Linked DNA regions of Homo sapiens. The protein of the gene in region 1 purifies or fractionates together with the protein of each later gene. This does not show direct contact. Each region holds a gene or a part of one and is shown in the gene's direction. Other genes may lie near its edges.

What was found.
Region 2: the proteins of ILDR1 (region 1) and HECW1 purify together in Homo sapiens (affinity purification with mass spectrometry; one large-scale study listed by BioGRID and IntAct). This does not show direct contact.
Region 3: the proteins of ILDR1 (region 1) and FBP1 purify together in Homo sapiens (affinity purification with mass spectrometry; one large-scale study listed by BioGRID and IntAct). This does not show direct contact.

Annotation. Positions count from the first base shown.
Region 1 is NC_000003.12:122,012,126-122,015,779, reverse strand, and holds part of ILDR1 (immunoglobulin-like domain-containing receptor 1 isoform 1 precursor), read left to right. Parts: intron 1-3,654. UniProt on the Homo sapiens protein: Maintains epithelial barrier function by recruiting MARVELD2/tricellulin to tricellular tight junctions (tTJs).
Region 2 is NC_000007.14:43,444,566-43,448,219, forward strand, and holds part of HECW1 (E3 ubiquitin-protein ligase HECW1), read left to right. Parts: coding exon 1-1,005; intron 1,006-3,654. UniProt on the Homo sapiens protein: E3 ubiquitin-protein ligase that mediates ubiquitination and subsequent degradation of DVL1. Also targets the mutant SOD1 protein involved in familial amyotrophic lateral sclerosis (FALS).
Region 3 is NC_000009.12:94,615,512-94,619,165, reverse strand, and holds part of FBP1 (fructose-1,6-bisphosphatase 1), read left to right. Parts: intron 1-1,305; coding exon 1,306-1,398; intron 1,399-3,654. UniProt on the Homo sapiens protein: Catalyzes the hydrolysis of fructose 1,6-bisphosphate to fructose 6-phosphate in the presence of divalent cations, acting as a rate-limiting enzyme in gluconeogenesis. Plays a role in regulating glucose sensing and insulin secretion of pancreatic beta-cells.

The DNA of each region.
Region 1 (3,654 bases):
ATCTGATTGTAGACTGTGTATTAGTCCGTTCTCATGCTGCTATAAAGAACTGCCTGAGATTGCATAATTTATAAAGGAAAGAGGTTTAATTCACTTACAGTTCTGCAGGGCTGGGGAGGCCTCAGGAAACTTATAATCATGGCAGAAGGGGAAGCAAACATGTCCTTCTTCACATGGTGGCAGGAGAAATGATTGCCCAGTGAAGGGGGAAGCTCCTTATAAAACCACTGGATCTTGTGAGAACTCACTATCATGAAAATAGAATGGGGAAACCACCCCAAGATTCAATTATCTCCACCTGGTCCCTCCAACAACACATATGGATTATGGGAACTACAATTCAAGATGAGATTTGGGTGGGGACACAGCCAAACCATGTCAGACTGTATATGAAGAGCAAAGGAAAAAAAGATACCAGGATGATTCCTTCCTAGTTTTTGGTCTTTTCCATTCACTGAGATGGGAAATGTGGGAGAGGCCCAAGTTTGTATGGAAGGATGATGATTTAGATTTTGGGCTTGATTTAGAACTTGAAACAACCAAGAAGAACTATCAGGAGCATTTGGATACATGTGTCTGTTTTAGTCCCTTATTGTACAGGAGTAAGATTTAATATTCAATGCTCTCGTAGTTTCTGATCAATGCTTTAAAACTCATCCATGACAGGAACTACTTTGTCTGTGTGTTTACTTGTTTATCATTGACTCTCCTACCAGGAGCACAAGTTCCAAGAGTGCAGGGACCTGTATCTCTTATTTTCTACTAATGACTGGCTCAGAGTGTGTACTCAATAAATGAATGAATGTGTGTGTTCTGGTCATGCCTAAATTTGCATGTGCTCTGAGATTAGTGTGTGGAGACATGAGTCACTAACCTGGGTGAATGACTTTGGGAAACCCCAAGCATCTGCCCCTCAACCAGGTCTTGGCCTCTCCCCCGGTAACCAAAAGGATGTTAAGTTCAAACCACCTGAGTGGCTATTTATTTCACTTAGTAGTTTATCAAAAAAAAATTTAAAGATTGATATTTTCCTCTTTTGAATAGGTTGTGGTGAAACATGGGACTGTCACTGGCTATTTATGGGAATATACATTTCTTTCCTGAAGTATCTATTCGAATAGAAAAGGTTTATTCCCTTTAACTCACTTTGAGATATATATTCTACTGGAATAAAAGAACGCATGTGAAGACGTACTTATATAATCATATTCATTTCAGTAATTAATGCCAGCATTGCTTATAATACTTAAAAGTCAGAAACAACCTAAATGTCCATAATTTGGAAAATGTGTAAATAAAAGTGGCTCATTGATGGAGTGAAATGTTCATGCAGTTACTAAAAAAAAATAGATCTGCATATACTGATATACAATATATCATTAGTTTGAAGAAAAAGTCACAAATCAATGTACATAATATGATTAATTTAAAAAAAACAACATAGGAAAAGATGTGAAGGGATGTAGACCAAATTGTCAACAGCAGTACCTCTGGAAAGTGGAATTCATGGTGAGCAAGGAGGAACTTTTTACTTGATACCCCCTCCACTGTTTGAAGTTTCTCACTTATTTATTTTGTATTAACAAACAAAAAGGAAGAAGAGCTTCTGTACAAAATGATTAAAATAAATTTGTGAATGTCCCTTAAGTGCGTGAATATTCCTCAAAGGGTTAAATCTCAACCATTTAGAAAACTTATCCAGAAGACATGGTAGTGTAGTGGAGGTCTAAGCTTAAATCCAGCTTTGCTACTTTCTAGCTGTGTGGCCTTAAGCAGATTACTTAATCTCTCAGAATTTTCCTCATCAATGAAATTGAGAGAAAGTAAAGCTTATCTCATCAGTTTCTTGCAAAGGTTAAATGAGATAATGTATAATAAAACACCCAATACCGTGTCAAACAACATAGTAAGTGCTCAGCACATAGCACTTTCCTTCTCGGGGTGCTGCACTGTTAAGTGTTGCATGCCAGACCTTGGGTAAACACACAGTACCTAGACATCATTCCGCTCCCCACCCATCTGCTTTCCTGGTCTCCTCTCTCTGCTCTCCCTATCCTTTCCTTCTTGTTCGTGACCACTCCCTCTTGTCTTTGTCTCTTCTTGTCCATAGCTAGTCACTTCTTGTCTTGCTCCTTCTTGTTCATAGCTAGTCCCTCTTCTCCTTGATTCCGCTCATATTTGCACTGTTATCTGAGGAAATGTAACAGGCACTGATGGTAAATATGCTTGGTGAGATAGCCTGCTCAGCCATAAACTCTGATAGCATTGAACCTGTGTGCATTTTGTTAACCTGCCACATGGAGTCAGGGTGCTTGTATACCTGAAAAACACTCAGGAATCAATTCCTGTCAGTCCCAGGCCACTGCCCCTTGCCGGCAAAGACCTGCCTTCACCCTCCTGCCTACCATCCCTTCCAAGCAGGCCTGTTCATAGGAAAGGAGGGGAAGTGCCATCTAGTCCTTCAAAATAGTTCTTAATTTTAAAAATATTTTAAAATATATACCTGTATTCCTATACTGTGTGAGTATCTTCTACAAACTAAAACTCCTTCTTGCCAAATCTAATACTACACAGGAAATGAGGAATAAAAAAATGTGCAAAGATGTGCATGTATTTAGGAACAGATGACATTTAGTTGTAAAGATACTCTGCCCTGGTTGGTGTGTTTCCTTCTGTTTTAGTGTAGGATGGTAGTCCCCACTCAGCACAGCAGCCTGGCCTTGGAAAGTACCTGATGGCGGGAATCAGAGAATCCCCTTCCCCTTCTCTCCTTCCCATGAGCTCTGATATCTCATCTGAAGTTTCCTTTCTACCCATGTGACAGGTCTCCTTCCCTTCTTTCACAGAGCCTGGCAAGCTGTGAATGAGTCCACCAGGGTACAAAGCTATGAAACTTTTGAAGCTTTTGAGGCACCAACTCATTTTGCAAAGAGAAGACAATCATGATAGTTTACATTTGTATCATTTTTTCAAAATGCTTTTACATGCTAGTCTCAGTGGATCTGGAACTCCTGAAGTAGTCAAGATAAGTACAAATGATACAAATGATAGCTTAGGTTTGTTGAATGTCTATATGTGCCAGGCTCTTTGCTAAATGGGGGACATTTTTTTATGCTCACCACAACCCTCTGAGGCAGGTATTATCTTCATCTCAGTTTTGCATACAAAGGAAAACAATAGTTTGGAAATAACTTGCTAGGTCAACTTCTGACTCTAACCAAATTCCCTTTTCTGACCCCCAGCAACTAATGTTGACTAGAGTGTTTAATAAACTGCTGTTTATATTACATTACCATTCAGCTGTTAGGGATTGGAGACAGAATCTGAACTCAGGGAGTCAGGTTCTAGAATTAACATTTTTGAGAGAAAATGATAGAGACAGCTAGGAAATGAGGAGTCAATGAACTGGGGAGGAGAAAATTCCACAGGATAAAGGAATTTTAAGAATAGAAAAAAAATTAAGAATTTGAAAACTTGTAGTAAGCCTGAAAGAGCAAAGTTGCAACCAGGATGACTACAATCAGGACGTTTCTCTTTTTTGATCCTGTTCACATTTTCAGCCTGATTTGCTGCTTTGGGTCCTTTCTTGAAAACTCCACCTGCTTAGTTCTGTGCATGCCCAGTGTGGTTAGGTTTACAGAGAAGTTAGAGGAT
Region 2 (3,654 bases), on another chromosome or scaffold:
GTGAGGAGGCATCAGCACTGCTGCTGGAAGACGGTGAAGCCCCAGCCAGCACCAAGGAGGAGCCCTTGGAGGAGGAAGCAACGACCCAGAGCCGGGCTGGAAGGGAAGAAGAGGAGAAGGAGCAGGAGGAGGAGGGAGATGTGTCTACCCTGGAGCAGGGAGAGGGCAGGCTGCAGCTGCGGGCCTCGGTGAAGAGAAAAAGCAGGCCCTGCTCCTTGCCTGTGTCCGAGCTGGAGACGGTGATCGCGTCAGCCTGCGGGGACCCCGAGACCCCGCGGACACACTACATCCGCATCCACACCCTGCTGCACAGCATGCCCTCCGCCCAGGGCGGCAGCGCGGCAGAGGAGGAGGACGGCGCGGAGGAGGAGTCCACCCTCAAGGACTCCTCGGAGAAGGATGGGCTCAGCGAGGTGGACACGGTGGCCGCTGACCCGTCTGCCCTGGAAGAGGACAGAGAAGAGCCCGAGGGGGCTACTCCAGGCACGGCGCACCCTGGCCACTCCGGGGGCCACTTCCCCAGCCTGGCCAATGGCGCGGCCCAGGATGGCGACACGCACCCCAGCACCGGGAGCGAGAGCGACTCCAGCCCCAGGCAAGGCGGGGACCACAGTTGCGAGGGCTGTGACGCGTCCTGCTGCAGCCCCTCGTGCTACAGCTCCTCGTGCTACAGCACGTCCTGCTACAGCAGCTCGTGCTACAGCGCCTCGTGCTACAGCCCCTCCTGCTACAACGGCAACAGGTTCGCCAGCCACACGCGCTTCTCCTCCGTGGACAGCGCCAAGATCTCCGAGAGCACGGTCTTCTCCTCGCAAGACGACGAGGAGGAGGAGAACAGCGCGTTCGAGTCGGTACCCGACTCCATGCAGAGCCCTGAGCTGGACCCGGAGTCCACGAACGGCGCTGGGCCGTGGCAAGACGAGCTGGCCGCCCCTAGCGGGCACGTGGAAAGAAGCCCGGAAGGTCTGGAATCCCCCGTGGCAGGTCCAAGCAATCGGAGAGAAGGTTAGACCTCAAACCTGATCAGAGTGAGAATAGGACCATCAGGGGGACAAAGGTGTCACCAACAGTTTAAAAACAAGAAGGGCGGGGGATCGGTGTCAAACGGGGTTGCTGGGGCAATGTATGCCTGTCTTGTATATACATGTGTGCATGTGTATCTGTGTATGAGCATAGATGACTGTGAGTAGCTGACACCCCACAATGTCTCAGATACACACCAGGAATTACGACTGGTTGGATGTGAGCGTGCACTTGTATGTGTGCTTCTATGTTTGTTTTAACTAATCACCAGAACTGGTTAGTGTACATGTTATCCTAGTCTTAACAGCAGCCAGAGCCCCAAGACTAGTATCAAATGATATACATGGGAAAAATCTATCTACATTAAATGGATAATGTGTAAATATCTGCTGACTTTCAAAGCACATGGAAGATTAGCAATAGATGTTAATATTAGTTGAAGAACAGATTTTACCTCTGTTTTAGAATTCAACTAGCCCATGTACGTACATATAGATATGTCTAGCCTACATATATTTGTCATTATTTATGTCCACTCAATTCTTGTTATTACTGTTGGTTTTGTTTTGTTGTTGTTGTTGTTGTTGTTGGCTATTTTGGCTAATGGAAGGGAAAAATAACATGATTGTGTATAAATGACTTTGTTTCCAATAAGAATCAAATCCAAAAGCTGCCACCATTAGTTTTAAAACGTATTCTGTGTTTTAACCAAAGATGTTCTTTCTTAGTCATGCCTGTGGAATTATATGTGAAATTAATTTGCATTTCCTTATCCAGGAGTGGAAACTGTCTTCCAGTCAAGTGACAGTGGTATGACTGGGAAAAAAAATTGAAAAGTCACATAATAATATGAAATAATTCAGTTGTTTTAAAAGAGAAAAACATAGCCTCTGCTATTTTGCTGTTCTGCTGTTGAAATTAGCCTCCAACAAAAGGCGGGGATATTTTCTCTAGATTGTAAGCTCATCAAGGGCCAGAGTTGTGTTTCTTTATGTTTGAATTCTTAGCACCTAAACAAACCCCTGGTGCCTACAAATTTTTTTTTTAACAGGAGCTAAAGTGAGCATTAAAAAAAATAATTTTAAGTATTCAATAATGCCCGCTTCTACATTTCAGAAAAAGAGTGAGAGAAGGTGGCACATGCAATAATGAGAAACGCAAGGAAATTGGTAGAGAAAAAGAAACACAGGCAGAAAGGTAAAACAGACAGCATGGAAAGGTACCCACAAGGAGCGGGATGGAAAATCCCTCCTGTGAGTAGAAGGGAATGGGAAATGCCTTTCTTTCACAAGGATGTTTCGAGGACTTCCTTTATTCTAGGCCAGATGTAATGCACTGGGCGCAGGAAGATGGAGTGGCATCAGGTGATGTATGGACATTACTCGATAATTACAGCATAATTAAAATAATACAACAAAAGGAGATTGGGGGATTCCCACATAAAAGGCACACATAGGAGCTGGCAGGGATGTTGGGTTACAGAGGTCTGTAGATTTTTCCTGTGAAGAGCCAGATAGTAAATACTTTAGGCTTTGTGGGTCAAGAGGTAAAAAGCTAAATAACTGTTCTCACTAAAAAGCTTTTTTTTTTTGTATTAAAAAGTGTACTGACACTTTTCTTAGCTCAGAGCCATACAACCCTGTTTTAGTGCACAGTTTTTTGGCCCCCATGTTGGGAGATAATCTACACATGGTCAATTGAAACTTGGCTCAATGTAAATTTATATAAGATCATGTTTTACAAACAAAAAAGTCACATCCTTGCCCTTTAGAGGCCAACAGTCTAGCAGGTGGAAGAGCAGGAAGTGTTTCAGGGTCACAGTGGACATCTCTGAATTGGCACTGGCAGTTTCTAAAGAAATATCTAAGTTCCTGAACTCTGCAGAGTGTAAACTCAGAAAAGGTTAAGAAGCACCTACATGCTTCACTATGGCGATCACAAGGGGAAATAAAAAGATTCCCGAGGGGTCTCTTGATCTGCTGAAGGCCATGCACACGCTGGCATGTGACTTCTTCCCAGCCATCCTTCCCCGCCTCAGCAGTGAGTCCCCAGGCTAACCGTGTCTGCATTGTGGGACTGTCCTTCACTTGCCACCAGGCTTCACAACAGCAGATGCTTCAAGAAAGCAGGGCTTTAACATGACCTGCCTGATACGTGATTGTGTGGGTGACCTCTGCTTCCATAAAAATCCCTATTGCTCCTTCGCCTTGACTTCTAAGATTGCAAATTCCTTTACTGTAGAAACTGCATTAGACGGCTGGGTGTGTGGGCTCACGCCTGTAATCCCAGCACTTTGGGAGGCCGAGGTGGGTGGATTGCCTGAGGTCAGGAGTTCAAGACCAGCCTGGCCAACAGGGTGAAACCCTGTCTCTACTAAAAAAAAAAAAATACAAAATATTAGCTGGGCACGGTGGCGGGCACCTGTAATCTCAGCTACTTGGGAGGCTGAGGCAGGAGAATCACTTGAACCCAGGAGGCAGAGGTTGCAGTGAGCTGAGATCGTGCCATTGCACTCCCAACTGGGCAACAAGAGCAGAACTCTGTCTCAAAAAAAAAGAGAGAGAGAAAAAAAAACTGCATTAGATTAACCCAGGTGGATTTGTTGTCCACGTGCCCACATAGATAAGGCTG
Region 3 (3,654 bases), on another chromosome or scaffold:
GCGTATGGCTTAGATTTGTTGTTTAATATTCTCCATCACTCACGCCGGACTTCTCTTGTCTATCATGGGCCTTCATGATAGGCAGCTTCCTGTGTTCCAGTTTCCAGTTCCTCCTGCATTAGTGAGGGTGGTCTGTGAAGAGCAAGAGGGCAGGGAATCATGTTAATCTGCTACAGACATTTAAAAACGACATTGTAAAGTGGCTAATTTGGAGATGGAAAACTCCCAGTGATGTGCTGGTAAACTGGGTCTCAAAGCAAACAAACAAGTCTCTGATATGTCCACTTGCCTCTGTCAATGGTGTGAATACTCTCCCATCGTTGATTTTAAGCTACCAATGTGATATCACTGAAGGCAGAGTTGGGAAGAGATGTGCACCGTTAGCTCCTGAGAGCCGATACCAGCCAGCTCCTGCACACCACTGAAAATCCCACTCAAAACAGGAATCTGCGGTATTCCCACTACCACTGAAAGTTATCTACTTTGGGAATTACGCTAGAAATTTGTTTTGTTTAGTTTTGTTTTTAGAGACAGGGCCTCATTCTGTCACCCAGACTGGAGTGCACAGTCATGGCTCACTGCAGCCTCGAACTCCTGGCTCAAGTGATACCTCCTGTCTCAGCCTCCTGAGTAGCTGGGACTACAGATGTGCAGCATCATGCCCAGCTAATTGAATTTTTTTTTTTTTTTTTTTTTTTTTTTTTTTTTTTACAGAAGGAGTCTCTCTATGCTGCCCAGGCTGGTCTCAAACTCCTGGGCTCAAGCAATCCTCCTGTCTTAGCCTCCCAAAGTGCTAGGATTAGGCATGAGCCACCGTGCCCAGCCAGGATATTTTTGAAAACTCTATGCACCCCAACCTCAAGGGGCATCTGTAAGACCTCCATGAGAAGTTTCTTATAGATCTCAACCCTAGCAAAGTCTCTGCTTCACCTAAGGAATTATTTTTTTCCTTACAAATAAAGGAAAATGAGTGACTAACCTTCTTTTTCCTTTGGCTGCCAGGAAACTCAATGCAAAATTATGATTTGATTATATCAACAATATAGGAAATCATGACTTATCTGTATTCCATTACCTTCATCTGCACCTCTTAAGTGGTATTTTCTCTGTTTAATGGTCTTGTGTGTATGTGTGTGTATCTGTGCATTCTGTATGCCATCTCATGCCTTCCATGACAGTACAAATAAATAAGACCCACATTTTTTGAACTTTCTTCTAAATTCCCATTCTTAGCCCCTAATGTATACTCCTTTAGTGTATCTTGCTATAACATTTTAAGGTTGTATTTCTTTTTTCTGTGCTCAGGGTAAATATGTGGTCTGTTTTGATCCCCTTGATGGATCTTCCAACATCGATTGCCTTGTGTCCGTTGGAACCATTTTTGGCATCTATAGAAAGGTAAAACGTGATATCTTAAGCACTTGGTTTGGGGACAGAAGTTAAGATTGAGCATCCAGTCCTATTTCACTGTGGCAGAGCAGCCGGAGTGGAGATCATGAAACTGTGAGACTGAAGTAGATTTGTATCTCAAGTTCTGAGCTTTTCAGCACTAATTGCATGACGAAGACCCACTAGATTGTTGAAAGAGAATATAGGGTAAAATATGGGTGGGAAGAGAAGGATATTTCACTCTTTTTACTATGTCTTACTTTTTATGATAGAAAATGAGATTTAAAAAAGAGGCAGTAGAGGGTAAGTATAGTGATGATACGATGTGAACTCAGAGTTGAGAGTGTAAGACAACAATAGAGACTATGTCAAAACTGTCCTTTAAGTCCCCTAGTCAATGGTCTATAAGCTATGAGCCCCGGGCTGAGTCCAGCCTGTGGCCTAATGTGTACAGCCTGTGAACAAAGAATAACCATTTTTACATTTTTAAATAGTTGAAAAAAACTAAAGAACAAAGTTTCGTGATCCATTTTAAGTTTTACTCTTCACGAATGAAGCTTTAATTGGCATTTGGTCACATTCATTTTTTCACATACTGCCTTTGGCTGATTCTCTGCTGCACTGTCAAAGTTTTGTAGTTATGATAGAGACTGTATGGCCCATAAAACTGAAAAATTTACTATCTGTCTGTCTGTAGAAACAGTTTACTGAGCTTTGCTCTAAGTCGTAGAAAGCACACAGCATAGGATGAGAATCCAGCCCTGCTCGGGTCTCCTAACACCTGACTCGGGCAGTCACCCCTCCTCCAGAGCTGCTTTTTCTGAGAGAGAGAGAGAGAGAGAAAGAGAGAGAGAGAGAGGAGAGAGAGGAGAGGGAGGAGGAGGAGGAGAGGGAGGAGAGGGAGAGGGAGAGGTGCTCAATTATACGAATAAGTGAAAAATAGAATGAAAACCCATCCACCCATCAGGAAACATGATAAAATCCAAGGTACATCCTCTTAGCTTTAGCTCTTGTTTTGTTTTATTTTTTCAAAGTATATATTTTAGGCCGGATGCGGTGGCTCACGCCTGTAATCCCAGCACTTTGGGAGGCCGAGGTGGGTGGATCACAAGGTCAGGAGATTGAGACTGCCTTGGCTAACACTGTGAAACCCCGTCTCTACTAAAAATACAAAAAAACAGCCAGGCATGGTGGTGGGCGCCTGTAGTCCCGGGAGGCTGAGGCAGGAGAATCGCTTGAACCTGGGAGGTGGAGGTTGCAGTGAGCCGAGATCACACCACTGCACTCCAGCCTGGGCAACAGAACAAGACTCCGTCTCAAAAAAAAAAGTATATATATATATAGTTTTAACAGCTTTGGGGGGTACAAATAGTTTTTGGTGACATGAATGAATTGTATAGTGGTGAAGTCTGAGATTTTAGTTTATACCTCACGAGAATAGTATATATTGTATCCAATATGCAGTTTTTTTATCCCTCATCCCCTCCCATCACCCCCTTCTAAGTCTCCAAAGTCTACCATACCATTCTATATTCAGCTCTTGTTTATTTCAGAACTGAAACCTCACAGGCTGGAATCGACTGAAGAGGTTGGTTCAGCTGAACTCTGTTCTAGGACACAAAGGCATTAACTTAAGAACTGAGACCCTTGGCCTAGCGAGATGGCTCACGCCTGTAATCCCAGCACTTTGGGAGGCCGAGGTGGGCGGATCATGAGGTCAGGAGATTGAGACCATCCTGGCTAACACGGTGAAACCCCGTCTCTACTAAAAATTACAAAAAATTAACTGGGCATGGTGGCGGGCGCCTGTAGTCCCAGGTACTCAGGAGGCTGAGGCAGGAGAATGGCATGAACCTGGGAGGTGGAGGTTGCAGTGAGCCAAGATCGCGCTACTGGACTCCAGTCCGGGTGACAGAGCTAGACTCCGTCTCAAAAAAAAAAAAAAAGAACTGAGACCCAAATTTGCACTTTATCTCTAAAAGTGACTTATTGTCTAGTATTATACATAATTTCCTTTCAAATATGTGAAAAGTAGAGCCCCCATGGCACAGTTATCTTTGGTCATTGGAACGTATTTTGCTTTTTATCTTGGGTAAGAGGCAGATCCACATCACAATCAGTTTGAGGAATAGAAGATTCAAATTCTCATACTAGAAAGGCAAAAAGGCAACAATTTATCCATTTTCCAAGTCATGCCAAGGAACATACCATTTCTGTTGTAGACATGGAAGAATGCAATTTTCCTTGCAAAATATCAAATCCACA